5 separate regions of the Homo sapiens genome follow, and all the other regions are linked to region 1. The links come from fine-mapping of genetic effects on gene expression. A gene starts in region 1. Each other region holds a variant in brackets. All regions are shown on one strand. Distances are between the middles of the regions.

Region 1 (5,101 bases):
TGGGGTCATTGTGTCACTCATAGGACTTGGGAGCAGGGGGCCCCCAGGTTGCCATGCTGATGTTCCTGCTGTTTGCCATAAGTAATTTGGCCTCACTGTCAGCTTTTGGCATCTATGAAGTTGTGGCATACTCTGACATAGATTAGCCAACTTTTTCTTAAAGGGTCAGATGGTATTTAAGGCTGTGGGCCATGTGGTCTCTGTTGCAACTACTTAACATTGCCATAATAGCATGAAAGCTGCAATATATAATAACATGTAAGTAAGTGACCATGATGACGTTCTCCAAAGAACTTTTATTTACAAAAACAAGCAGCTGGCCCACTTTCTTTGTTTTTCTTTTGAGACATAGTTTCACTCTTGTTGCCCAGGCTGGAGTGCAATGGCTTGGTCTCAGCTCACTGCAACCTCCGCCTCCCAGGTTCAAGCGATTCTTATGCCTCAGCCCCCCAAGTAGCTGGGATTAGAGGCATGTGCCATCATGCCCGGCTAATTTTGTATTTTTAGTAGAGATGGGGTTTCACCATGTTGGTCAGGCTGGTCTTGAATTCCTGACCTCAAGTGATCCACCCGCCTCAGCCTCCCAAAGTGCTGGGATTACAGGTGTGAGCCACCGCGCCAGGTGCAGCTGGCCCACTTTCTTTCCATATCAGGCTCAGAGCAGGAACTTTTCTAATGTCTCTTGTCTTGCAGGCAGCGAAGATGGGGAAGCAGGATCTGGATTCCTTTCCACCTTAACCTCTGTGCTCTGCGCTTTCCTACTTACCCTAAAGGGCTTCCTTGCCCTCCAGCTTGCAGTTAAGTTGTGTCAGCGGGAGACATAAGCAGAGATCAGAGATGGGAGAAGGGAAATGGAGGTCCCTGCTATATTTATCCACTAGCCTCCTAGAGTGTGAGGGTTCCTAGTGGGAGGCCTTCTATGCACATATTACTCTCCAGCTTCAGGGAATTGTTTCAGGCCCTTCCCTTTTAAGCCTAGAAGTAACAATTACCGCCCCACCACATCCCAATTAGCCAGGGGTACAGCACTTTGCTTAAAGCTTAGTCACTCTTGGCCGGGGGCATTAATCACACCTGTAATCCCAGCACTTTGGGAGGCGGGGGGGGGGGGGGGGGGGGGGGGGGGGGGCGGGTCACCTGAGGTCAGGAGTTCCAGACCAGCCTGGCCAACATGGTGAAACCCCGTCTCTACTAAAAATGCAAAAATATTTAGCCGGGTGTGGTGGGGGGCACCTGTAATCCCCGCTACTTGGGAGGCTGAGACTGGAGAATCGCTTGAACCCAGGAGGCGGAGGTTGCAGTGACCAGAGATAGCGCCATTGCACTCCAGCCTGGGTTACAAGAGCAAAACTCCGTCTCAAAAATAAAATGAAATAAATAAAATAAAGCTTAGTCACCTTCCTCAGGCTACCTGGTTGGAGCGTGCCATCTGTTTCCTGCTTTACCCTGATTGACAACGGGCTAACAGCCAAGTCAAGTCAACCTGAGTCCTCTCAAAACCCTTCTTTTTGCACTCCCCTGCCTGCAGCAACACAGTTTTCTGTTTTTTTTTTTTTTTGAGACAGAGTCTCACTGTCGCCCAGGCTGGAGTGCGGTGGCGCGATCTCAGCTCACTGCAACCTCCGCCTCCCGGGTTCGAGCGATTCTCCTACCTCAGCCTCCCAAGTAGCTGTAACTACTGGCGCGCGCCAGTACGCCCGGCTAATTTTTGTATTTTTAGTAGAGACGGGGTTTCGCCATGTTGGCCAGGCTGATTTCGAACTCCTGACCTCAGGTGATCCATCACCTCGGCCTCCCAAAGTGCTGGGATTACAGGCGTGAGCCACTAAGCCCGGCCAGCAACACGCTTTTACCGCTGCAAATCCGGATCAGGCAGGCTTTGAAGCCCAGCTCACAGGCCGTCTCTTGGAAACTAACTTAGATTTCCACCTGGGAGCACTTTGTCCTCTCAGCTCCCACTGCACCACTTTATGGATCGCGTGGTGACTCGTTTCATTTTATTTATGTGTGTTCCTGGAAAGGACGCTCTATTTCCTTCGTGTCTCTACCTGGTAGGTAAATCGGCCGCAGAAAAGACCAATGCTAACTCCACCCTGCATTTGCAGAGATCCGTCGCTCACACCTTTTCTTGTCTTCCGTTGAAAAAAGAGAATCGTGGGAGTAGGACCTATTTGCCAATCTCCTGGTAACACTATCACAACTGGCCACTTCCGCCCAACGCCCGGTAGTCTGAGAGCCTCCAAGGTCCTCCCCCGCACCCCTGAGGTCCTGCAGACGACGGCGTCGTGGGTGGTCACCGTTATCCCTTAGGTCTGGAGAGGGGACATCCGAGCGAGGGCCACTTGCGGCCAGGCCCGAGCTCGTCCAGCTCCGGGTGACCACAGAGTGCCGCGGGCGGGCAGAGGGGCCGGAAACCCAGGCCGCTTCGTCCCTGTTTCCGGCAGCGCCGCGCTGCTCCGGGAGCCGCTGTGGCAGCGTATGCTGCCACGGGGACTGAAGATGGCGCCGCGAGGTGAGATTCCGGAGGTGTGTGAGTCGCTGGTCCCTTTCCCTTCGGTCGCTCCCTCCCACCTCTGTCCCAGAGCTTGACCTAAACCCTCCATTCTCTAGCGTTAGGGACGTCGCGCCTCCCTGGTCCAAAGCCGGCTTCCGCGGTCCCGCCCACCCTGGGTGCCTGAAGGTCTCAAGGTGCACAGCTCAAATAAACGCAGATCCTTGGCTGGGCCACTTCTAGGCTGGCTCAGGTGCGAATCTGTTGGTCTCTGCGCCCCAACTTCCCCTCCCAAATAGTGACAGAGTGAGATCTTTGAGATGTCTGTCAGCTGCGAGTTACCTCTTGACTTTTATTCCTGAAGCCGAAGAGTCGAGTTTCACGGTGATTCCTAGGAAAGGAGGGAAGCCCCCTCCACTCCCACCCCCGTACCCTCGCCCCCTCATTATCAGCAACCAGAAGTGCCCCTGAGTGGCCGGTCCCATTAGTTGCAGCGTCTAGTTTCCCCAAAGTTAGACACCAACCCATACGAGCAGAGAGGGAGCTGCCTTCCGGCCCATCCCACTTCTCTGTGCTCCTTTTTCAGGTAAACGGTTGTCCTCCACCCCGCTGGAAATCCTGTTCTTTCTGAACGGGTGGTATAATGCTACCTATTTCCTGCTGGAACTTTTCATATTTCTGTATAAAGGTAAGGAAGGCTTGGGGCTTGACGACAGCATCCCTTCCCCACTTCAGCTCAGAGCCAATTCCTACCAAGAACCTTCTTATTTTCCGTTCTTTTCTGCCCCCTGCAGTTCTTTGTCGCTGCAAGGCAGGCCTCCTCATCAGATGGCTTCTTTGAGTATGATTCCATAGGCAGCCCCTCAGCAAGAATTTCTTGAGTTTGAGAAATGTGGGCTTCTCCATTCTGACTCTGCCCACATCACTGCTCTTTGCTGAGCTCCACTGTAAGCCCACTGGTGACCCTTAGAAACTATTCAGTGGCCTGTGTACCCATGTACATCCAATCATTTTGGAGAGTGGAGTCCCCAGAGACTTTTGGAGTTAGGAGTAAAACACCATAATAATGAGCCTGAGTCGCATTGTGAGTTTATGTATCCTGCTGCTGTAATAATGCCCACATCTCACTAACTAGTTCATGGAAAGCTGAGACTGATGTCCTCTTTTTTCCCAAGTGTGTGGCAGTTCTTGTGGGTGCTGTTATATGCTGTTTGCAAACTCTGGCTTTTGTATTGGCAGGTGTCCTGCTACCATATCCAACAGCTAACCTAGTACTGGATGTGGTGATGCTCCTCCTTTATCTTGGAATTGAAGTAATTCGCCTGTTTTTTGGTAAGTGTTGTCCAGAGAATATTTCCACTCCTTATGAGACAAGCTGGTATCTGTAACTTGATTAACAAGAAAAGTACATAACCTAGGTTGACTATCATAGACTGGATCTGTATATCCTATTACTCCGTCTCTGAAGTTTCAAGTTGCTGCTTCATACATTGGGTCAAGATTTACCTGTTTGTTGCTCTGTAAGGCTAGAGATGGGCAATAGAATGGGATATTAGATGATTCCTTCCCAGCTGCCTAACTGCAAGAAGAGTGCTTGGTTCTTCTCACTAGTATTCTTAGGGGAATAGGTTCAGTTGTAACTCCACGTCAGGGCAGGCAGTGTATCCTGTACAGATCAGTACTAAGATCCCTAACAATTCTCTGAATAAGGATCTCTGTAGGAGTTTTTTGTTTTTTTTTTTTGAGATGGAGTCTCACTCTGTCCCCAGGCTGGAGTGCAATGGCACGATCTCGGATCACTGCAATCTCTGCCTCCCGGGATCAAGCGATTCTCCTGCCTCAGCCTCCTGAGTAGCTGGGATTACAGGCGTGCACCACTGCTCCCAGCTAATTTTTGTATTTTTAATAGAGACGGGGTTTCACCATGTTGGCCAGGATGGTCTCGATCTCTTGACCTTGTGATCTGCCTGTGTCGGCCTCCCAAGGTGGTGGGATTACAAATGTGGGCCACTGCACCTGGTTGGATTTTTTTTTTTTTTTGAGATGGAGTCTCACTCTGTCACCTGGGCTGGAGTGCAGTGGCACCATCTCGGCTCACTGCAGCCTCCGCCTCCCGGGTTCAAGCAATTCTCCTGCCTCAGCCTCCTGAGTAGCTGGGACTGCAGGCGCCTGCCACCATGCCCGGCAAGTTTTTATATTTTTAGTAGAGATAGAGTTTCACCATGTTGGCTAGGATGGTCTCGATCTCCTGACCTCATGATCCACCCGCCTTGGCCTCCCAAAGTGCTGGGATTATAGGTGTGAGCCATCACACCTGGCCAGATTTTGTTTTTTAAACATTTATTTATTTGAGACAGGGTCTCATTCTGTCACCTAGGCTGTAGTACAGTGGTACGATCATAGCTCACAGCAGCCTTGAAGCCCTGGGCTCAAGCAGTCCTCCAACTTCAGCCTCCTGAGTAGCTGGGACCACAGGTGTGCGACATCATACCTGGCTAATTTTGTGTTTTTTGTAGAGACAGTGTCTTGCCTTGTTGCCCAGGCTGGTCTGAAGCTCCTGGCCTCAAGCAATCTTCCTGCCTTGGCCTCCCCAAGGTGCTGGGATTACAG
Region 2 (5,101 bases), 92 kb after region 1:
CCTGGGAGAAGGGGCCAGCTGCGTTGTGGGTGGTGGGGGGCAGATCTTCGCCCCTGTGGGCTTCCGAGCCAGGCTTGGGACCCATGAGGCTCCCCGTGCTTCCTTTCTAGGCCCCCTGGGGCCCTGCCCCACAGCATCATGATGGGGAAACTCCCCCTGGGGGTCGTCTCCCCTTATGTGAAGATGAGTTCGGGGGGCTACACGGACCCCCTGAAATTCTACGCCACCAGCTACTGCACCGCCTACGGTGAGGGTGCCTTTGCGCAGGAGCCTCTGCTAGGACATGGGCAGGAAGGGAGGGGCTCTCTCTGAGGGAGGAGCAGACCCTCTGGCTGTCACACTGCAGAGCAACTGCTGAATCCGTTTGTCCCCTGGGCCCTGCCCGGCTGCTCCCTTCTCTGGTTCTGTCCCTGCAATTCTGTCACTGTGATTCTGCCACACTGACCTTGTCCCCAGCCCACCCACTCCATTTCCTGCCATCACAGTCCTGAAAGGGCAGGCTTGCAAAGCTCCTGCCCGTGGCTCTGAGCCCTCCCCTGTCACTGTGACCCCTGTGCCCCTCGGAGGACGCTGGCCCTGCCTGGGAAGCCCTGCCTGTTTTTGACCTTGGGGTCTGTCTCCCCGTTACCCCTCTGGCAGGTCGGGAGGATTTCAAGCCCCGTGTGGGCAGTCACGTAGGCACCGGCTACAAATCAAATTTCCAGCCCGTGGTCTCATGCCAAGCCAGTCTGGAGGCCTTAGACAACCCGGCCAGGGGGTACGGTCTGTATGGCCCCTTCCCAGCCCCTGCCCTGCTCATCAGACCAACTCCAGGTTCCTTGGATGGGGACCCTGAGCTTTGCCTGCCCTAGGCTGGGGGTCCTGGGTGACTCAGGGCACAGCGGACCTCTGAGCCATCTGTGGGAGGGTGCAGGGAGGAGGGAAGCTCCTTAGCAGAGGACAGAGGCAGGCGGCCTGGGGTTCTAGCTCCTCCTCACCCTCAGGGAACAAGCCCAGGACCATTTCCAGTCTGTGGCCAGCCAGAGCTACCGCCCCCTGGAGGTGCCTGACGGCAAGCATCCCCTGCCCTGGAGCATGCGCCAGACCAGCTCAGGCTATGGGCGGGAGAAGCCCAGTGCGGGTCCCCCCACCAAGGAGGTCAGTGCTGGGCCAGGGCCAGGAGAGGGAAGCCTCAGGGTGGGGTGGGGCTAGGGCTGCACTGCCAACAGTTGGTCAAGGTGGAGGTGACAGGGCATGGAGCAGCCACCTTGTAGGGATGGGGTCCACTCATCTTTCTCCCCTTTGTCCTCATCCTTGTCCCCACCATCCCCACCACCTCTATTCCCTGCCCCAGCCCCACCATTACCTCCACCTCCATTTCCATCCCCATCCCTGTCCCCATTCCCATGAGCCTCACACTCCCGTCCACACCTGCAAGCCCCATCACTGTCCCTACTACCACCACTGTCCCCCCACCATGGACATCCTCACCCCATCTTTTTCATTTCTTTTTCTTTTTTTTTTTTTTTTTTTTGAGATGGAGTCTCACTCTGTTGCCCAGGCTGGAGTGCAGTGGCACGATCTCGGCTCACTGCAACCTCCACCTCCTGGGTTCAAGCGATTCTCCTGCCTCAGCCTCCCCAGTAGCTGGGATTACAGGCATGTGCCACCACACCCGGCTAATATTTTGTATTTTTAGTACAGACAGGGTTTCACCGTGTTAGCCAGGATAGTCTCAATCTCCTGACCTCGTGATCTGCCCGCCTCAGCCTCCCAAAGTGCTGGGATTACAGGCGTGAGCCACTGCGCCCAGCCCCATCTTTTTCATTTCTATCCTCATTATTACCACCCTTCTTATCATCAGCACCACCACCAAAATGGACACTCATTCATTCATCCAGCGAGAATGTTCTGAATATCTCCTTCATATTTGAAGATGATAAGAGCGGGTGGAGTGCGGGGTGGGGCGGGGGTTAGGAAATACAACAGGGAGAAGCAGGGAGGAAGAGAAGTGAAGGAGTTGGAGGCCAGGTGCGATGGCTCACACCTGTAATCCCAGCACTTTGGGAAGCTGAAGCAGGCAGATCACTTGAGGTCAGGAGTTTGAGACCAGTCTGGCCAACATGGTGAAACTCCATCTCTACTAAAAATACAAAAACTAGCTGGGCATGGTGGCACGCACCTATAATCCCAGCTACTCAGAAGGCTGAGGCAGGAGAATTGCTTGAACTCGGGAGGCGGAGGTTGCAGTGAGGCTGAGATTGCCTGGGCAATAGAATGAGACTTGGACTAAAAAAAAATAAAGCCAGGCGTGGTGGCTCACACCTGTAATCCCAGCACTTTGGGAGGCTGAGTCAGGTGGATCACTTGAGGCCAACTGCTGTTGGGTCAGCCTGGCCATCATGGTGAAACCCCATCTCTACCAAAAAAATACAAAAAAAAAATAGCCAGGTGTGGTGGCTTGCATCTGTAGTCCCAGCTACTTGGGAGGCTGAGGCACAAGAATTGATTGAACTCAGGAGGTGGAGTTTGCAGGAAGCTGAGATCATGCCACTGCACTCCAGCCTGGGCAACAGAGCGAGACTCTGTCTCAAAAAATGTAAGTAATAAATAAATTAGAAGCGAAGGAGTTGCAACTGCAAATCGGGAGGGTCGGGAAAGAGCTTGCTATGGAGACACTGGACAAAAACTTGAGGGAGGCCAGCTCCTCCAGTTGCAGCTGTCTGAGGGAGGAGTGGTCCAGGCAGTGCCAACAGCAAGTGCAAAGGCCTCAAGGTGGGAACAGAAAGGAGACAAGCAGCTAGAGCAGGGTGAGGCACTCAGGTCCTTGCAGGCCACCAGGAGGACGTGGAATTCCCTGCGAGTGTGATGGGAAGGCTGCAGGGCTCTAAGCAGAGAGGGGACATGCAGGTTTCATTGTAAAAGGACCCCCTCTGGCTGCTCTGCAGATACTGCGCTCTGTAAAGGTCAAGGGCAGAAGCAGAGTCAGGGAGTGACTGCCGCCCCCTCACTTGTAATTGGCCCTTCTTCCTCCCAGGTCCGGAAGGTCCATTTCGACACCCAGGAGCACGGGCCTCAGGCCATCACGGGGCTGGAGCCCAGGGAAGTGCCTCTGCTCCACCAGCAGCAGGGCCAGGACCCGCTGGAGCGGGAGAACTTCCGACATGTGAGTGGCAGCCC[A/G]GCTAAGGGCTTCGGGGTGGGGCAGAGGGGCCACACCCGCCTCTTCCTCCCACCTCAAGACAAGTATTGCACTGACTCACCCAAGAAGCCAGCTCAGGGTGGGCTCAGGGCGCCAAGAAAGATGGGAGAGCAAAGGATTTGATATTGGCTATTTCCAAAATAGCCTCAATGTGGCTTCTCGCGATTTAACGCTACTCCTCTTCCCCCAGCCTTCCTCCTCCTGCTCACGGCCCCTCCTGGTCTCGGTCCCTCTGGGCCCCCCACTCATTACCAGGAGTCTGGTGTGGGGTGTGACGTGGTATTCATAGTCACAGGGGAACTGTGCTTTGTGCTGAAATTCCTGGCCCTGCGATGTCCCACCCCACAGAGACTTGTGTCCAGGGTGCTGTACTGGCCCACACAGGCTTCCTCAGAGCACAGAGAACCGAGGCGCCACTCCACCGCCGCCACACGCCTTCGGGGCCCTGGTGGGTCAGTGCCCCCACTCCTCCAACCTCTCTGTTCCAGGGCCCACGCTTCATGACGTCGGAGTACAATTCCAAGTATCTCAGGGACCCTCTAGACCAGCCAGGTAGGCCCTGTCTGAACTCACAGCTCCCTTCCCATCTTCCAATCCACCTCCCTACTTGCTACCCCAGGGGCCCTGGAGCTGGCCTAGGACTGAGAAGGCACCAGTGGAAGAAAGAAGGATGCACAGGTGGCTGGAGGGAAGCGCCTCTCCCGGGCTGACCTCAGTACCTTGGGCCTCTCAGGAGGGTGGCTTGGCCGGTGCATGCCCTTCCTGCTGCTCCCTCTCCTGTCCTCCGGCCTGGACTCTGGAATCCTCACCCTGCCACCCACGATCCTCATGGCGCAGGTCTCCAGGATCTTGGGATCCACTCCCTCTGCACCTGCTGGGACACTGAGCCTCTGGAGGACACATGGGTGGGCCAGGTGGCCTGGCAGCACACAGGGCATTTCTTTTGCAGATTTCTTGCAGAAGAAATCGATCGGCGCAAAGGAGGGGAGTGGCTTCACCAAACAGTCCCACCAGAGCCCCATTGTCTTCCAACCGCCCTCACAGGCCCTCCCTGGGGACCCTGTAAGTCGGCTGGGCTCCTGCTAGAACTTTAGGGGGCTTGAAGCCCTCCAGTCTCAGGGTTTCTAGCTTTCCTAAAGAATGTGAGCTGCAGAGCCCTTTGTTCAAACACAAGACGAAAGAGCTTAGGTGAAAACCACTGCTTTGGTCCAAGTCCCCCATTTATAGATGAGAAGACTGAGGTCCAAAGAGATGAAGGAGGTGTAGCCAATGTCATTCAGAGTTCAGACAAGAGCCCTGGCCTGCTGGTCCCATTCAGAGTCATGCCTTCCCCTGTCTTCTCCCCAAACACTTCCCTTTTCTCAGTGATGCCCATTTGAGCTGAGTCCTCCTCTGTGCTCAGCACAGCAGTGGCCTGGAGGCAGAGTGGGTGGGAGCCACCAGGGGCCCAGGCTGCCTCTGCGGGGCTGACATCCTCTGTGGGCCTATTTCCAGGCCCTCCTCCCAGGCCAGAGTGTCACCAAGTCAGACTTCCTCCCCAAGACTCACCTACATGTAAGCTGAGCTAGGGGGAGGCTGGGGACCGCCTGGCGGGGAGCAGTTAGAACATGGCTCTGGAAGGTGGTGGGGGAGGCAGCCACATCCTGGTGCCAGTGGCTGCTTTGCTCCCTCCAGGGAGATGAGTTCCTACCTGTGTTGGCCAGAGGCTCCAAGCGGGAAACAGCCTTCAGCCGAGGGAATGAAAGGATTCTGAACCCCAGAGTGAGTGGCCTTGGCGTCTTGCTCAGAGAAGGGAGAAGACAGGGAGGTTTCTGGGAAGAGGTGGCATTTGGGTCAGGCATTGAAGAATGAGAAGAATTAGGATATTTAGGGATGTGGAGGTAGGCCCTCAGGTGGAGGGTGAAGAGAGCCTGGGCCTTCCTG
Region 3 (5,101 bases), 330 kb before region 1:
TATCGACAGATGAAGCCAGGATTCCAGCACTTACTCCCAGAGCCAGTTCTTCATTATTCAAGATACAAGATCAAGGCTGGGTCCAGGTTCTGTTGAGCCTGAAGCCTATACAATTTGGGGGTCCCTCTTTAAAAAATATGATAATACACAAATAAAATTAGATAAAGGGTGCCTGTAATCCCAGCACTTTGGGAGGCCAAGGCGGGTGAATCACTTGAGGTCAGGAGTTTTAGACCAGCCTGGCCAACATGGTGAAACCCTGTCTCTACTAAAAATACAAAAATAAGCCAGACATGGTGGTAGACGCCTATAATTCCAGCTATTCAGGAGGCTGAGGCACAAGAATCTCTTGAACCCGGGAGGCGGAGGTTGCAATGAGCCAAGACCATACCACTGCACTCCAGCCTGGGCGACAGAGCTAGACTCCATCTCAAAAAAAAAAAAAAAAAAAAGATAAATGGCCTTGGGAGGGTCCTAAGACTGACCTTCTCCAGCCTTGTGGTCAGTCTGTCTGGACCTGTCTGCACATCATCCCTTTAATTATTTCCCAAAAGCTCTACATCACAAACGCATTATTGAAGATGAAGAAACGGGGCTCAGAGAGGTAGAGGAATTTGTCCAACCCAGTTGTCCAGGAAAGACCAGGCACAGTGGACTCCAAATCCCATATTCTTCCAGCCACAACATGCATTTCTTGAATAAATGCTAAAAGATGTGGTGGGTAATTGGTATTGATGAATGGAACACAAATTTGGGGCAAGTTTCAGGTTCACCCTATCCACACCCTACCCGACTCCCACCAGAACTCCTGAATATCACAAACATCCTTCCAGGACCCCACACACAAAAAGTCCCAGGTTATAACCATATTAGAGTAATGGAAAATGAGAAAATGGAAAAAACCTCCATCATTCCCAGCAAAGACTCAACAGGGCCCTCATGAAGCTCCACCTTGTTCCCACTGAGGCAGCTTCCGGCAAGTGCCTGTTTGTACAACCAGCGAGAAACACAGCTCTTGCTGATCTTAATTCTTACCCCCACTCGTTCAGTTCTCTTATGATGACAGGCACCTCAATTCAGTTTCGCAGCATCCCAAAACGTGCCGGAGTAGGCTGGGTGAGACTCTCGGGGCTCAAAGTCTATCATTACATCTTGGTTGCGACCACAGAGGGTTTTTTTTTTTCTTTTAAACACCAGCTCAAGGGCAGAAGAATTAGTCAGGGCACAGATCTTCCGGATCGCTACTGTATGGGGACCATAACATCACTGTAAGGCCCCTGTGCTGAGCCACAAACCCCACTTGGAACAAAGAAAACTCCCAGGTACTTTACCAGACACCAATTGCGCCATCCTGTTTGGGACACAGTCATTTGGCACTCCAGGTTCTCAACCCATAGTAATAACGCCTCATGCTTTTGAAACTGAAAAATGCATCCAAAAAAATCTCAGTGACACATCATGACTCATGTCCCATCCCCACCCCCACTCCCACCTCCCTCCCGCCCCACCCTAGGGAGGGGGGCTCGTCCTTTTCATTCACCCCTGATGTGAAACCAGGTTGGTCAGTGCCTGTCAATTTCACTTCCTGTTTCCTTGCTTCCATCAGAGAGCAGAGCTGTGAGGAGGGATAGATATTATGCTGTGGTGCAGCCAGACAAGCCCCACCTTGTTGTGCCTCCAGAAGAAGCACATTCTTGGCCTGGGTGGTAACAATAACATCTGGATGGAAATATCAAGTGGTATCAGGCTTCCAGACCACCATTCATGAAAGGTGCATCCACTTAGTAAGCCTCTATGGAGGCCTCTTCTGGGCCAAGTGTTTGTTCGAAGTTGTGTATGGACAGAAAGATATTCCTCCTCTCAAGGTGCCCACAGTCCAGGGCGTACTGAGAAGCCAACAGATAATGCAGTGAGATGGCTGTGGGGATTGGGGTGTTACAGAATTGGGGTGGGGTGGGGACAGCCTGCTTTCAAGGAGTCTAGGCAGGCATCTCAGAGGTGACAGCCAAGACTAGATGGAGGACAATAATAAGGATGATGACGATGATGACACTGAT[G/T]AACAATATGTGCAGCGTTTTCTAACACTTTGCATTTGTTAACTCACGTATTCTTCCCAGTCACCCTTATTCCCACTTCATAGAGGAGGGAACTGAGGCATCAGGATGGTGAGTAACTGGCCCAAAGTCACATAGCTGTTACAAGCACTATATGAGGACAAGCTGACCTGCCAAAGACAGCGTAGGGATCAGGACGGAGAAAGTCACAGAGAGGAAAGGGCATGGCATTTATGGAGAGCTGCCAACATCTTGGGGCCACACAGCAAAGGGCAAAAGTGGTCCCAACATGTGGGTGTGTGGCCCACAGACACGCTTTGTTGATGGCCCATATAGTGTTTTAAGATATATATATAAACCAACGCTTGAAAATTAGGCTATTTCATATAAAAACTCAGATTCCCAAAATTATGTTGAACAATCAGGATCTGGAAACATGGAGGCCATATTCTTCCATGGCAATAATCAGAGTTGGGTTGGTTCTCTTTAGATGGGGTGTAGCCTTCACCCTGTTTCCGTACAGCCACTTCCACTGCCTGATGTCCCCTTCATCCAGTCCCATTAATCCACCAACGTGACCTGCCTGGTGTGTGTGAGACAGGGCAGAGTCAGGGCACAGAGCTACAGAACTTGGACTGAAGCGTTTCCAGTAAGAGGAGGGCAGTGGTGATGCAGCCAGACTCCTACTGCGTGGAGATGAGTCCAGCAGCTCCCTGGAAGAGGGACTGCATGGAGCATAAGACTGCAGCAGGGAAGAGGAGGAGAGGATAAAGTACTGTTCATGCAGGATCAGAACCGGGGCAAGTGTGAAGAGGTCCCTCTACTGAACTTCTACGGAGGTTGATTTTACCGGAAATCTTTTCTCTATTTTCTCCCTGGGGCTCAGGATATAAGCTATACTTAGCAAGCAGTACTTTTTCATATGGAAGACTAAGATTCGCAGAGACCCTGCCAAGGCAACTTACATAGAGCCAAAGGAGAAAAATTAGGCAGATGCTCTCGGGGGAGTTAATTTTAAGGCATTACAGCATTTAATACACAGATTCCACTTCAGTGTTAAACCAAACCAGTCGCAGAGGCTTAAAAAACAGTGGCCAGGTCAACCACTTCACTTTACTCCCAGCCCCCAAAACCTCTCCTGCCCACCATGTTTTCAACTTGAAGCCACACTGAACCATGGAGCACTGTTAGGAAGGCTGGAGGTGGGCAGAGGGGACAGCCCGAGATCATGGTGCCACGAGAAGCTTCCCTCCAGTTGGGGAGATGGGGCCAAGCCCCATGGACCACGAGTGAGAAAGACACATCATGTTTCTATTTCACGTGTGCCATTCACGTGCTTAGTTCTGGGACGCTGCAGAGAAGCAGCAGTTACAGACCTGCTGATGGTGTGGTCAGGAAAGAAGCAGGAAAAGGGTGGGGCACGGTGGTGGCTCACGCCTGTAATCCCAGCACTTTGGGAGGCCGAGGCAGGCGGGTCACCTGAGGTCAGGAGTTCAAGACCACCTGGCCAACATGGTGAAACCCTGTCTCTACAAAAATAAAAAATTAGCTAGGCATGATGGCGGGCGCCTGTAGTCCCAGCTACTCGGGAGGCTGAGTCAAGAGAATTGCTTGAATCCGGGAGGCGAAGGTTGCAGTGAGCCGAGATCACGCCACTGCACTCTAGCCTGGGCAACTGATCGAGACTCTGTCTCAAAAAAAAAAAAAAAAAAGCAGGAAAGTAATTTGACAACTAGGAGATCTATGACAACACTTCACTCAGCTGTGGAAAGGTCTTGGGTGTTAGGGTCACATTTGACAATTCTGCCTGTTTGCTGTGTGGCACTGATGCCTGGCTGAGCTTCTCTGTGTCTGTCTCCTCATCTTTTAAATGAGAGCGCTTTGTACACTGGGAAGTGACCTGTGGATGTGAGAGGCCCTGTTGCTATGTGTCCTCTTCATCATTGCTTGCCTATTTTACTATATTTTTTTTTTTGAGACGGAGTCTCGTTCTATTGCCCAAGCTAGAGTACAGTGGCGTGATCTCTGCTCACTGCAACATTCGCCTCCCAGGTTCAAGTGATTCTCCAGCCTCAGCCTCCTGAGTAGCTGGGACTATAGGCACGTGCCACCACATCCAGCCAATTTTTGTAGTTTTAGTAGAGACAGGGTTTTACCATGTTGGCTAGGCTGGCCTCAAACTCCTGACTTCAGGTGATCTGCCTGCCTCGGCCTCCCAAAGTGCTGGGATTACAGGTGTGAGCCACCGCGCCTGGCCACTTGCCTGTTTTTCAATCCAGGGCTGGTCCCCCGGCTGGAAGTCTGCAGAGAGGGTCGAGCCCTCCATCTTTCCTTCTCTCCCTTCCCAAAGTTTCCCAGCTCTGCTGCTATCCCAGGACCCTTTCTTAGGCTATAAAATCCACACGAAGGTGCTATTCAAAAAGATTCCCGCATTTCCTACTTTGAAAGGGCACCCTAAGGAGTGACTAACAGTGATATTTCAGGAGGCACTGGGTGGTCGTGTCTTGAGCGCTCAGATTCTACCCCATGAGCATCTACATTCAATCAAGCCAGAGACCAAGATAAAAGCTAAAAAACCCAACCAAGTTTCCAGGTTTTCATAGTGGTTGGCTCCATGTAGACTGGAATTAGCAAACAGGTTTCAATCCATGTACCAGATCTGATGGTATGAAACACTGATTATGGCCGGACACTGTGGCTCATACCTGTAATCCCAGTACTTTGGGAGGCCAAGGCAGGAGAACTGCTTGAGCCGAGGAGTTTGAGACCAACCTGGGCAACATAGCGAGACCCCGTCTCTACAAAAAAAAATAATAATAATAATAATTAGCTGGACATGGTGGTGTGTGCCTGGGGTGCCAACTACTCGGGAGGATGAGGTGGGAAGATCACTTGAGCCTGGAAGGTTCAGACTGCAGTGAGCTATTATTGTGCCACTGCACTCCAGCCAGAGCAACAGAGTGAGACCTTGTCTCGAAAAAAAAAAAAAAAAAAAGAAAGCAAGAAAGAAAAGAAAAAGAAACACCGATTATGCAGAGAATCAGTCT
Region 4 (5,101 bases), 82 kb after region 1:
CCATGGAAGTTTTAAGTTTCAAATAGTCACAATCTTTTTAAAGACCAGGCCCATGGCCAGGGGCGGTGGCTCATGCCTGTAGTTCCAGCGACTTGAGGCTGAGGCGGGAGAATCTCTTGAGTCCAGGAGGTTGAGGTCACAGTGAGCTATGATTGCGCCACTGCACTCCAGCCTGGGTGACAGAGCAAGACCCTTTCTCTAAAAAAAAAAAAAAAAAAACAAAAACCAAACAAAAAAAGCCCCATTTTTTTTGGGCATTACTGTTTTCTCAAAATTTCAGTAGGCCTCTCATCTGTCTGCTTCCAGTGAGTTTCATATGCCTGAATGTGACAGTTAATTTGTGTCTCAATTTGTCTAGGTGACTGGGTACCTGGATATGTGATCGAGTATTCTTCTGGGTGTTTCTATGAGGATGTTTTTGGATGAAATTGGCATTTAAATTGGTAAACTGAGTAAAGCAGTCTGTCCCCCTAACCGGGGTGGGCTTCATGTAATCAGCTCAAGGTTTGAATACAACAAAAAGACTTACACTCTCGCAAGTGAAAGGCAATTCTTTCTGCCTGGTAGCCTTCAAACTGAGACACAGGCTTTTATCCTGCCTTCAGATTCGCCTGGGAACACTGGCTCTTCCTGAGTCTCAAGCCTGCTGGCCTTGAGACAAGAACTACATCAGCTCTCTCAGTTCTCAAGCCTTTGGACTTACTCTGGAACTAAGCCATCAGCTCTCTTGGGTCGTCAGCTTGCCAACCAACTCATCCTGAAGATCTTGGGACTTGCCAGCCTTCATAGTCACGTGGGCCAATTCCTTTTTTTTTTTTTTTTTTTGAGATGGGGTCTTACTCTGTTGCCCAGGCTGGACTGCAATGGCACGATTATGGCTCACTGCAGCCTCAACCTCCAGGGCTTGAGTGATCCTCCCACCTCAGCCTCCCAAGTAGCTGGGACTACAGGCACATGCTACCATGCCCAGCTAATTAAAAAAAATTTTTTTTTTGTAGAGACGGAGTTTCACTGTGTTGCTCAGGCTGGTCTTGAACTCCTGAGCTCAAGCAACCCTCCACTTCAGCTTCCCAAAGTGCTGGGATTACAGGCATCACTGGCCCAGGCAGAGCCAATTCTGTATAATAAATCTGTCTCTCTCTGTCTCTCGTGTATGTGTGTGTGTGCACATTCTGTTTTGCTAGAGAATGCTGACTAATACAGAATCACATCCTAATTTATTTCCTAAGAAGTTCTCAAATCTTCATTTCTTTGCTTATGCCGCAGTAACAAACAAAACCCCAAACCTTAGAGGCTTAAAGCAGCAAGGTTTATCTCTCTATCACATCCCAGTGTGCTGCAGGAAAAGCAGCTCCAGGGCAGCTGACTCCATGCAGTGACTCAGAGATCCAGCCTGCTTCCATCTTTTGGTTCTTCCATCCCAAGTGTGATTTCTACCCACAGAGAATGGAAAACTCACACCCACCTCTAACTACTCAGACTGGGAGTGGCACTGCTCAATTCCACCCACAGAACCAGCCATGTGGCCCTTATCTAACTGCAAGGAAGGCAGGAAAATGCAATGATAATCATAAACATTTCTTGAGTGCTTTCTCTATGCCAGGCTGTGTGCTAAGCATGTAAATATTGTCTTTTCTGTATTCCAAGCCTAAGTCTCTTAAAGTTCTACTGTGACCTCATCATACAGCCAAGGAAACAGGCTCGGAGAAGTTAAGGAAGTTGTCCAAGGGCACATACCTCATAAAGGCAGGGCTGCAGAATTGAACCCAGATCTCTGTGCATTGGAAACCCACCCCCTTGACCCCTGTCCTGGTTCCTTGCTCATCTCTGCCAAGAATATCTTCATTCCATCTGAGGATTGGGAATGGCTTCTTATTTTCTGCCTCATCTCATTTCATCTTCCCCGCGAGTCATGAATTTTTAAACCTTGTGTGAGATCAACAAGTTCACCCAGAGGAGACAGTAAAAGAACAGAACAGGCAGGAACAGAACAGCCATCAGATACACAGGATAGAGTCTTCCAGGAAATGCCCACTGAGGGGAGAAATGAACCACAAGTGAGGCCAGGATTGTGGGAGGCTGTGAGGGAAAGCAATCCGGTCATCAGGGGAATCATTTCCTTTTACGAAAGAGAGAGAGATGGGACTTAGCCATTAGACTTGGGCTATTTCAGTTCCTGGTAATGACACAGCTCAGTGAATAGAACCCCCAAAGCACTTTCGGAAGGGGGGCCCCAGTCCTGGGCAGCTCTCCTGCCTTAATCACTGCAAGTCACAGAGCAGAGAAACTGGAAATGGGCAAAATCGATGACAGGCCTGCCTGCAGACCACGCCCTGGACCCAACCTGCGCCCCCACGGTCATTA[T/C]GTCACCCATCACTCCTTGGTGCTCACACAGCTGAGCCCATGAAGCAGGGCAGCCCCCACTCCCAGGACTAGACAGAAAGGTGGTTGCACGAATCCAGGGCTCCATGCTCTTCCCCATCGCAGGGAAGACAGGGCCTCACAGACTTGATGTCCTCCCAGTCAGCTCTTCTCTGCCATGATCCCCTTTATGCTGCGTCCCAGCTTCAAACTGCTCCCCTGAAAGGGTCAGTTGGAGCAGCTGAGCTTGGGGCATCTCACCTGGGTGAGCTTTGTTGGTGGGCTCAGAAGAATCTGGGTTGGGAAACAGTACTCTGGGGGCAGAATGAGGGGTTCAGTGAGCCCTTGTGTCCTTTGTGGGCACCTTGGAGTCTGGCTTGGGAGAAACTCCCTGTGCAGGTCCAGCAGGCCTAGAGGCCAGGCTGAGTGTGGGTTGGCATGAGGCCGACTCCCCTCCATGCCCCGCTGTAATAAGGCAGAGGGGAAGGACCTTGGAAGGGGGTAGGCTGGGGTCCTGCTATGTCACAGATGGCAGGTGAGGGGCCCAGGGGGAGGGGACGTGGAACCAGCCATCACTTCAGTATATGAAGACAGAGCTCCAAGTTCTCCAGGCCAAACAACACATCTCAAACTAAAGCAAGCCAAACCTCCTATCCTGGCTCAACCCCCTCTTCACAGGCAACAGGATCAGAGGGAGGCAGTTAATTAAGAAGGGTCACATAGCACTATTTGTGCCAGAGCCAGACCTCAAACTCAAGCCTAGAAAAGGCTCAGAAAGGGGCAGGCATGTAACCTCAGATCACCTGAAGCCAAGAAACATTACTCTAGGCTTGTCCCAGCCTCCAGCATGGGAATTTCAAAAGTAGGAGTATAATTACCCTCTCCCTGCCACCCCCAGCCTCCTGGGCTGGGAGGGCTCAGTGCCTTTAGCTGCATCCCAGGGATCTGTTTCCCATTTCTCAATCATCTTAGCTGATTCGAACAATTTCAGACCTTTCTTCTGTGAATTTTTCACCCAGCAGTGCCCAGCACAAACTGAGGACCATGAGAGGGGTGAACTCTTTAAAAGGATTTTTAGGCCTAGCATGGTGGTTCACACCTGTATTCCCAGCACTTTGGGAGGCCGAGGCAGGAGGATCCCTTGAAGCCAGGAGTTTGAGACCAGCCTGGGCAACAAAGCAAGATCCTGTCTCTATAAACATTTTCTTAAAATCTTTTTATTTTTTTTTCTCTATAGAGGTAATCAGGTTTAAAAAGAGATTTAAAAAGTCATAGGAGGTCAGATTTTGAAAATAGATCTGAGAACCTCTAGCTCAACCTTTGAGGCAATATCAAAGTGGTCACCAGCATGACCTTTGAAGTCAGGATGTCTGGGTTCAAATAATGGCTTTTCCCCTTAGTAGCTGTGTGACCTGTGACAAGTTACGCAGCCTCTCTGTGTCTGAGTTTCTTCATCTATAAAATGGAGGAGCTGATACCACCCACCAGGTAGGAATGCGGTGAAGTTTAATTGTGCTAATCATGGGAAGTGCTTAGAAACAGTCCCTGATACCTAACGAACCAGTGAAAGTTTGCTCTTATTGTCATCCTGTCAAGCTGTTGCATGCCTCCTGGGATGGGGAACTCACTCCCCCCAGGGCAGCCTGTTCCCCTATTGGATTATTTTGTGTGTTAGGAGGCTTTTCTATCCATTAAGCTGAAGTATGCCAACCTGTCTCTTCCCTACAAGAGCCCTGGCTTCCCTCTGAGGGCGGCTATAAAGACCCACATCAACCAAAGCAAAATGACACACACTTGGTGGTGTGTGGCTCATTCACTTCAGTTAATCCTCTTTTAGGGAACTGCAGCCCACATGGCCCAGCACAGAGCGCAGATGTCTGTCTCTGCTCAGGACTCAGCACTCAGTGGTGGTGTGCTCTGGCCTCGGGAGCCTGTTAGGGCCTACCCCACTGATCCCAGCCAAGGAACTCTATGGGCTGAGACCCAGCATGTCCTCTCACTGGGTCCTCTCTGCTAACCTAGTGTGTCTGTAGCCTCTGCCTTCGTATGGGAGGGAAACAGGGGAATCTTTTTTTTTTTTTTCTGAGATGGAGTCTTGCTCTGTCGCCCAGGCTGGAGTGCAGTGGTGTAATCTCGGCTCACTGCAACCTCTTACTCCTGCATTCAAGGAGTTCTCCCTGCCTCAGCCTCCCGAGTAGCTGGGATTACAGGCGCCCACCACCATGCCTTGCTAATTTTTGTATTTTTAGTAGAGACGGGGTTTTGCCATGTTGGCCAGGCTGATCTCGAACTCCTGACTTCAGGTGATCTGCCTGCTTTGGCCTCCCAAAGTGCTGGGATTACAGGCATGAGCCACTGTGCCCGGCTGGAAACGGGAATCTTACTGCCCAGGACTGGGCAGAGCTAGAAAGTAGGAGGCAGTTGCCCATCTGGCCAGGGCAGCCCATCCCTTTGGAAAATCATCCCTTTGGAAAAGCCCAGTGCTAAGGTCCCGGCGCTTTCTGGAGAATTTGCTGGTGTGTTCCAGAGGGCGGGGCATAGATTCCAGGGTCAAAGCTGAGTTTGGATCCCAGCTCCACTCCTCCCTGTCTGCGAGGCCTCAGGCAGTTTCCTCACATGTAACATGGGCAGGATTATAGTAGTTCCCACGTAGAGCCGGGAGTGAAAAGCGATGATGAGGTGATTCGTAGCTCAGCTCTGGCACAATAAAGTGCTGAATAAATGGGGACAGATATGGGAA
Region 5 (5,101 bases), 47 kb after region 1:
GTGGTTTGTTCATTTCAGATGCTTGCTCTGTCAAGGCACAGCCTATTGTCTCCTTTGCTCAGTGTGACATCATTCAGACGCTTCTACAGAGGTGACAGCCCAACAGATTCCCAAAAGGACATGATTGAAATCCCTTTGCCTCCATGGCAGGAGAGAACTGATGAATCCATAGAAACCAAAAGAGCCCGCCTGCTCTATGAGAGCAGAAAGAGGGGAATGTTGGAAAACTGCATTCTTCTTAGGTATGGGACTAGGAGTCTTTTTTTTTAAATCGGGCAGCTTCCTGAGCCAGAGTAGGTTCAGAGAGACTCCCAGGAGTAGGAGTCTTGGTGTCACTTCTCTTTTATTAGACACAGCCTTCTCAACCTCTTTTTCTTTTTTTCTTTCTTGTTTTTAGTCTTTTTGCTAAAGAACATCTGCAGCACATGACAGAAAAGCAGCTGAACCTCTATGACCGCCTGATTAACGAGCCTAGTAATGACTGGGATATTTACTACTGGGCCACAGGTACTGGGTATGATAAGCAGCATAATGTGAAAATAGGACAGTTTAGGCTGATTTGAGTCTAGAATTGTATCCTAGATAATTTTTTTCTTTCTTTTTTTTTTTTGAGACTGAGTTTCACTCTCGTTGCCCAGGCTGGAGTGCAATGGCATGATCTCGGCTCACTGCAACCTCTACCTTCCAGGTTCAAGCGATTCTCCAGCCTCAGCCTCCTGAGTACCTGGGATTACAGGCATGTGTCACCACACCCGGGTAATTTTATATTTTTAATAGAGACAGGGTTTCTCTGTGTTGGTCAGGCTAGTCTCGAACTCCTGACCTCAGGTGATCCGCCCGCCTCGGCCTCCCAAAATCCTGGGATTACAGGCATGAGCCACTGTGCCTGGCTTATAATTTTTTTCTTTTATTCATGAAGTAGACACTCAACCCAAACACTGTTCAAATTTTTGTTAAGTGTACAAAATTTATCAGTTAAAGTTCTTTATTTGCGAGACAGAGTGGAAACTTGTTTGTCTCACTTAAGCAAAAAGGAATTTAGTGGAAGGGTATATGAAGCTCACAGTATCAAAGGTTGAAGAAGAACCACTCTGGGAATGGAGTGGAATCAGACAACTAAGTCTGCATAGCCAAAGCTCCTCAATAGTTTCATTCTGGCCGGCCGCAGTGGCTCATGCCTCTAATCTGAGCACTTTGGGAGGCTGAGGCGGATGGATCGCTTGAGGTTAGGAGCTTGAGAGCAGCCTGGCCAACACAGCGAAACCTCATCTCTCCAAAAATTCAAAAATTAGCCGAACATGGTGGCGGACAACTGCAGTCTCAGCTACTTGGGAGGCTGAGGCAAGAGAATCGCTTGAGCCTGGGAGACAGAGATTGCAGTGAGCTGAGATTGCACCACTGCACTCCATCCTGGGCAAAAGAGTGAGACTATGTCTCAAAAAAAAAAAAGTTTCATTCAGGCACTACCTTTATGAGGAATGAATTCTAACTGTGTATAGTTAGGATTAACTTTGGCTATGAGTAAAAAAACATCCAAAACAGTAATGGCTTAAACAAGGTAGAACTGTCTTTCTCATGACAGAAGTCCAGAGGAAGGCACACTCCAGAGCTCATAGAGGGGCTTCAAAAAGTCATGGGTCCAGGTCCCCCCTACTTGCTGCTCTTTCATCCTAGCATGTGTTTTCTACTTCTTGATCCAGGACAGCCATATTTCAGCCCGGAAAAAGTGTGTGGAAGTGCATACCCCTCCTTTGTAGATCCCGCTCAGGAAATTATCCAGCATACTTCCACTTATTTGCCATTGGCCACAGCTTAGTTACTTGGCTACGTCTAACCATAAGGAAAAATAATATAGTCTATTCCATCTGCCCAGCTGTGTTGGAGATTCTGTTATCGATGAAAACTGGATATTAGGGGACGTGTCATTCATTCTGCCACACTCCGGGACTGCTGTTTTTGTGTCTCCACTCAATATTTGTATCAGAAAGTAGCAGCCATTGTCTATGGGTTCCAGGTATGAAGAGTGATAAGACAGAGTCTGGAGCCTTATACAATCACTGGAAAGCCAACAAAGTCCAAATATTTACTCTCCAACCCTTTACAGAACAAGTTTGCCCTGACTTAGCATAATGCATTTGAGATGCGTATCCTTGTTGTTACTTGTATCAATAGTTCATTCTTTTGTGTTGAGTAATATTCCATTGTGTGGATGTACCATGGTCTGTTCATCT[T/G]TTGACCAGCTGAGGGACATTAGGATTATTTCCAGCTTTAGGTGATTATAAATGAAGCCACTGTAAACATTTGCATACAGATTTTGTGAACATAGGTTTTAGTTTTTCTTGAGTGAATACTCAGGAGAAGGATTTGCTGGGTCATGTGGTAAGTGTATATGTTTAACTTTATAATAGGGCCAGGTGTGGTAGCTCATGCCTGTAATTTCAGCATGAGATCACATGCTCCTCCTCTGGGAAGCCGAGGCAGGTGGATCACTTGAGGCCAGGAGTTCGAGACCAGCCTGGCCAGCATGACAATACCCCGTCTCTACTAAAAATGCAAAAGTTAGCCGCGTGTGGTGGTGCGCCCAGCTACTCTGGAGGCTGAGGCAAGAGAATCTCTTGAATCCGGGAGGCAGAGGTTGCAGTGAGCCAAGATCACGCCACTGTGCTCCAACCTGGGCGACAGAGTGAGACTCTTTCAAAAAAATAAATAGGGCTGGGCGCGGTGAGTCAACACCTGTAATCCCAGCACTTTGGGAGGTCGAGGCGGGTGGATCACCTGAGGCCAGGAGATCGAGACCTTCCTGGCTAACACGGTGAAACCCCGTTTCTACTAAAACGACAAAAAATTAGCTGGGTGTGGTGGCGGGTTCCTGTAGTCCCAGCTACTCGGGAGGCTGAGTCAGGAGAATCGCTTAAACCTGGGAGGTGGAGGTTGCAGTGAGCCAAGATTGGGCCACTGCACTCCAGCCTGGGTGACAGAATGAGACTCTGTCTCAAAAATAAATAAATAAAACTTTTAGTACATTTTTTCTGTAATAGGTAAATATAGATAGTAAGCTTTTTCTATAATAGGTAAATATAGATAGTAAATACAGATAATGAATATTTTAGGCTTTGCAGGCCATACAGCCTCTCATAACTACTCACCTCGACCTTTGTAGCATGAAAGCAGCCACAGATAGCAGGTAAACGAATATGATTGTGTTTCAATAAAACCTTATTTGTGGACACTGAAAATAGAATTTCATACTGTTTTCACCAGTTATGAAATATACATTTGATTTTTTTTCCCCAACCATTAAAAAATCATTCTTGGCTGGATGCAGTGGCTCACACCTATAATTCCAGCGCTTTGGAAGGCTGAGGCAAAGGATCTCTTGAGGCCAGGAGTTTGGGACCAGCCTGGGCAACATAGACCCCCTATCTCCAAAAATAAAAATAAGTTAGCTGGGCTTGGTGGTGCACACTGTATTCCCAGCTACTTGGGAGGATCACTTGAGCCCAGGAGTTCAGAGACTGCAATGACCTATGATCACGCCACTGCATTTCAGCCTGGGCAAGAGTGAGACCCAATCTCTAAAAATCATTCTTAGCTCACAGGGCATAGTTTGCCAGCTTCTGTGCTAAGCAAAAGAGGTCAAACTCAACCAGACGCGGTGGCTCACGCCTGTAATCCCAGCACTTTGGTAGGCTGAGGTGGGCGGATCACGAGGTCAGGAGATTGAGACCATCTTGGCCAACATGGTGAAACCCCGTCTCTACTAAAAATACTGGGCGTGGTGGTGGGCGCCTGTAATCTCAGCTACTTGGGAGGCTGGGGCAGGAGAATCTCTTAAACCAGGGAGTCGGAGGTTGCAGTAAGCCGAGATCATGCCACTATACTCCAGCCTGGGTGACAGAGCGAGGCTCCATCTCAAAAAAAAAAAAAAAAAGATCAGACTCAACAAGTACATACTCAGTACATAATTGGACTCCAAGAATGTGATTCTGTTTACATGATAATCTGAAAAAGGCAAAACTTACAGGGACAAATCAGTGATTGCCAGGGTGTTGGATGTGAAGGGAGGGGTTGGTGTTCCACATCTTTACCCACACTTTGTATTATCAGGGTTTTGTTTTTGTTTTTAGCCATTCCAAGAAGTATATATTGGTACATCACTATAGTTTTAATTGGCATGTCCCTAATGACTAATAATATTGAGGATCTTTTCAAGGGCTTATCAGCCCTTTATGTATATTTGGTGACATGTCTCTTCAAATTCCGCCCCCCACCACTCCTCCCTTTTTTTTTTTTTTGAGACAGGATCTCACTCTGTCACCCAGGCTGGAGTGCAGTGGTGCAGTCATGGCTCAGTGCAGGCTCCACCTCCTGGGCTCAAGCGATCCTCCCACCTCAGCCTCCAGAATAGCTGGGACTACAGGCCGGCAGCACCATGCCCAGCTAATTTTTGTTGTTGTTGTATTTTTTGTGGAGATGAGGTTTTGCCATGTTGCCCAGACTGGTCTCAAACTCCTGAGCTCAAGCAATCCACCTGCCTCGGCCTCCCAAAGTGCTGGGATTACAGGTGTGAGCCACCATGCCTGGCCAGATTTTCCATTTTGGAAGATACTTTCACTGGATATAGAATTCGAGGGTCACAATGTTTTTTCTTCTGTTAAATAGAAACACTTCTACCGCCAGCTCTTAGTGTACAAGATCGGGTAGTCAGGAGTTCCGCTGGGTTTGGACTTTGGTTTTGCTCTGGTTACCTTCAGTGCATCACCAGCTTCATATTCCCTCCGGTGTTACCATGTGCTGTTTTCTCATTTCCATAGTTTGTGACGAGGTCTGCTGTATCTTTGTTCCTTTTTATGTGTCTTCTCTTTCTGAATCTTTTCAATATTTTGTCTTTGGTTTCTAGCCGTTTCAATATTATATACATAGGTATTTATTTGATATTTATATATGTAGGCATTTGATATTTATCGTGCTTTTGGGTTCTCTGGGCATCTTGGATCTGTGTTTTCATATCTTTTATTATTGTTGAAAAATTCTCAGCTGTTACCCCTTCAGCTATTTCTTCTGCTTTGTTTTCTCCCTCTTTTCCTTCTAGGATTCTAGT

Direction of the effects. Alleles are on the strand shown, and positions count from the first base shown. SD is a standard deviation of normalised expression in the study named. Not every link is listed here.
In carriers of allele T in region 4, the expression in testis of the gene that starts at base 2,434 in region 1 tends to be higher than with C alone (moderate effect, 0.56 SD a copy in GTEx).

What was found. PIP is the estimated chance that this variant, and not a neighbour inherited with it, causes the effect.
Region 2: its variant is fine-mapped to the expression of TMEM216 in subcutaneous fat (GTEx, PIP 0.91).
Region 3: its variant is fine-mapped to the expression of TMEM216 in spinal cord (GTEx, PIP 0.96).
Region 4: its variant is fine-mapped to the expression of TMEM216 in testis (GTEx, PIP above 0.99).
Region 5: its variant is fine-mapped to the expression of TMEM216 in fibroblasts (GTEx, PIP 0.98). The same link has a PIP of 0.9 or more in hypothalamus, lung and skeletal muscle.

Annotation. Positions count from the first base shown.
Region 1 is chr11:61,390,154-61,395,254 of GRCh38, forward strand. It overlaps TMEM216 (transmembrane protein 216), which reads left to right and starts at 2,434. Exons shown (of 5, transcript NM_001173990.3): 1 at 2,434-2,512; 2 at 3,078-3,179; 3 at 3,731-3,823. The coding sequence starts at 2,479. RefSeq lists an enhancer at 2,199-3,160.
Region 2 is chr11:61,481,672-61,486,772 of GRCh38, forward strand. SAXO4 (stabilizer of axonemal microtubules 4) reads left to right here. Exons shown (of 14, transcript NM_145017.3): 2 at 111-247; 3 at 640-757; 4 at 984-1,137; 5 at 3,017-3,145; 6 at 3,667-3,730; 7 at 4,128-4,240; 8 at 4,673-4,732; 9 at 4,853-4,939. The coding sequence starts at 139. Among named protein-coding and RNA genes, the nearest start is that of SAXO4, 3.1 kb to the left of the region's middle. RefSeq lists enhancers at 886-1,180, 4,432-5,101. The variant A/G (reference allele first, on the strand shown) is at 3,160.
Region 3 is chr11:61,060,105-61,065,205 of GRCh38, forward strand. LINC02954 (long intergenic non-protein coding RNA 2954) reads left to right here. Exons shown (of 4, transcript NR_186234.1): 3 at 1,607-1,771. The region is part of intron 1 of LOC105369325 (a long non-coding RNA gene); the gene reads right to left. Among named protein-coding and RNA genes, the nearest start is that of LINC02954, 7.3 kb to the left of the region's middle. RefSeq lists enhancers at 812-2,011, 1,077-1,316, 1,667-1,906. The variant G/T (reference allele first, on the strand shown) is at 2,058.
Region 4 is chr11:61,472,387-61,477,487 of GRCh38, forward strand. No RefSeq gene overlaps it. Among named protein-coding and RNA genes, the nearest start is that of SAXO4, 6.2 kb to the right of the region's middle. The variant T/C (reference allele first, on the strand shown) is at 2,365.
Region 5 is chr11:61,437,607-61,442,707 of GRCh38, forward strand. It overlaps SDHAF2 (succinate dehydrogenase complex assembly factor 2), which reads left to right. Exons shown (of 4, transcript NM_017841.4): 2 at 19-242; 3 at 398-507. Among named protein-coding and RNA genes, the nearest start is that of SDHAF2, 10 kb to the left of the region's middle. The variant T/G (reference allele first, on the strand shown) is at 2,232.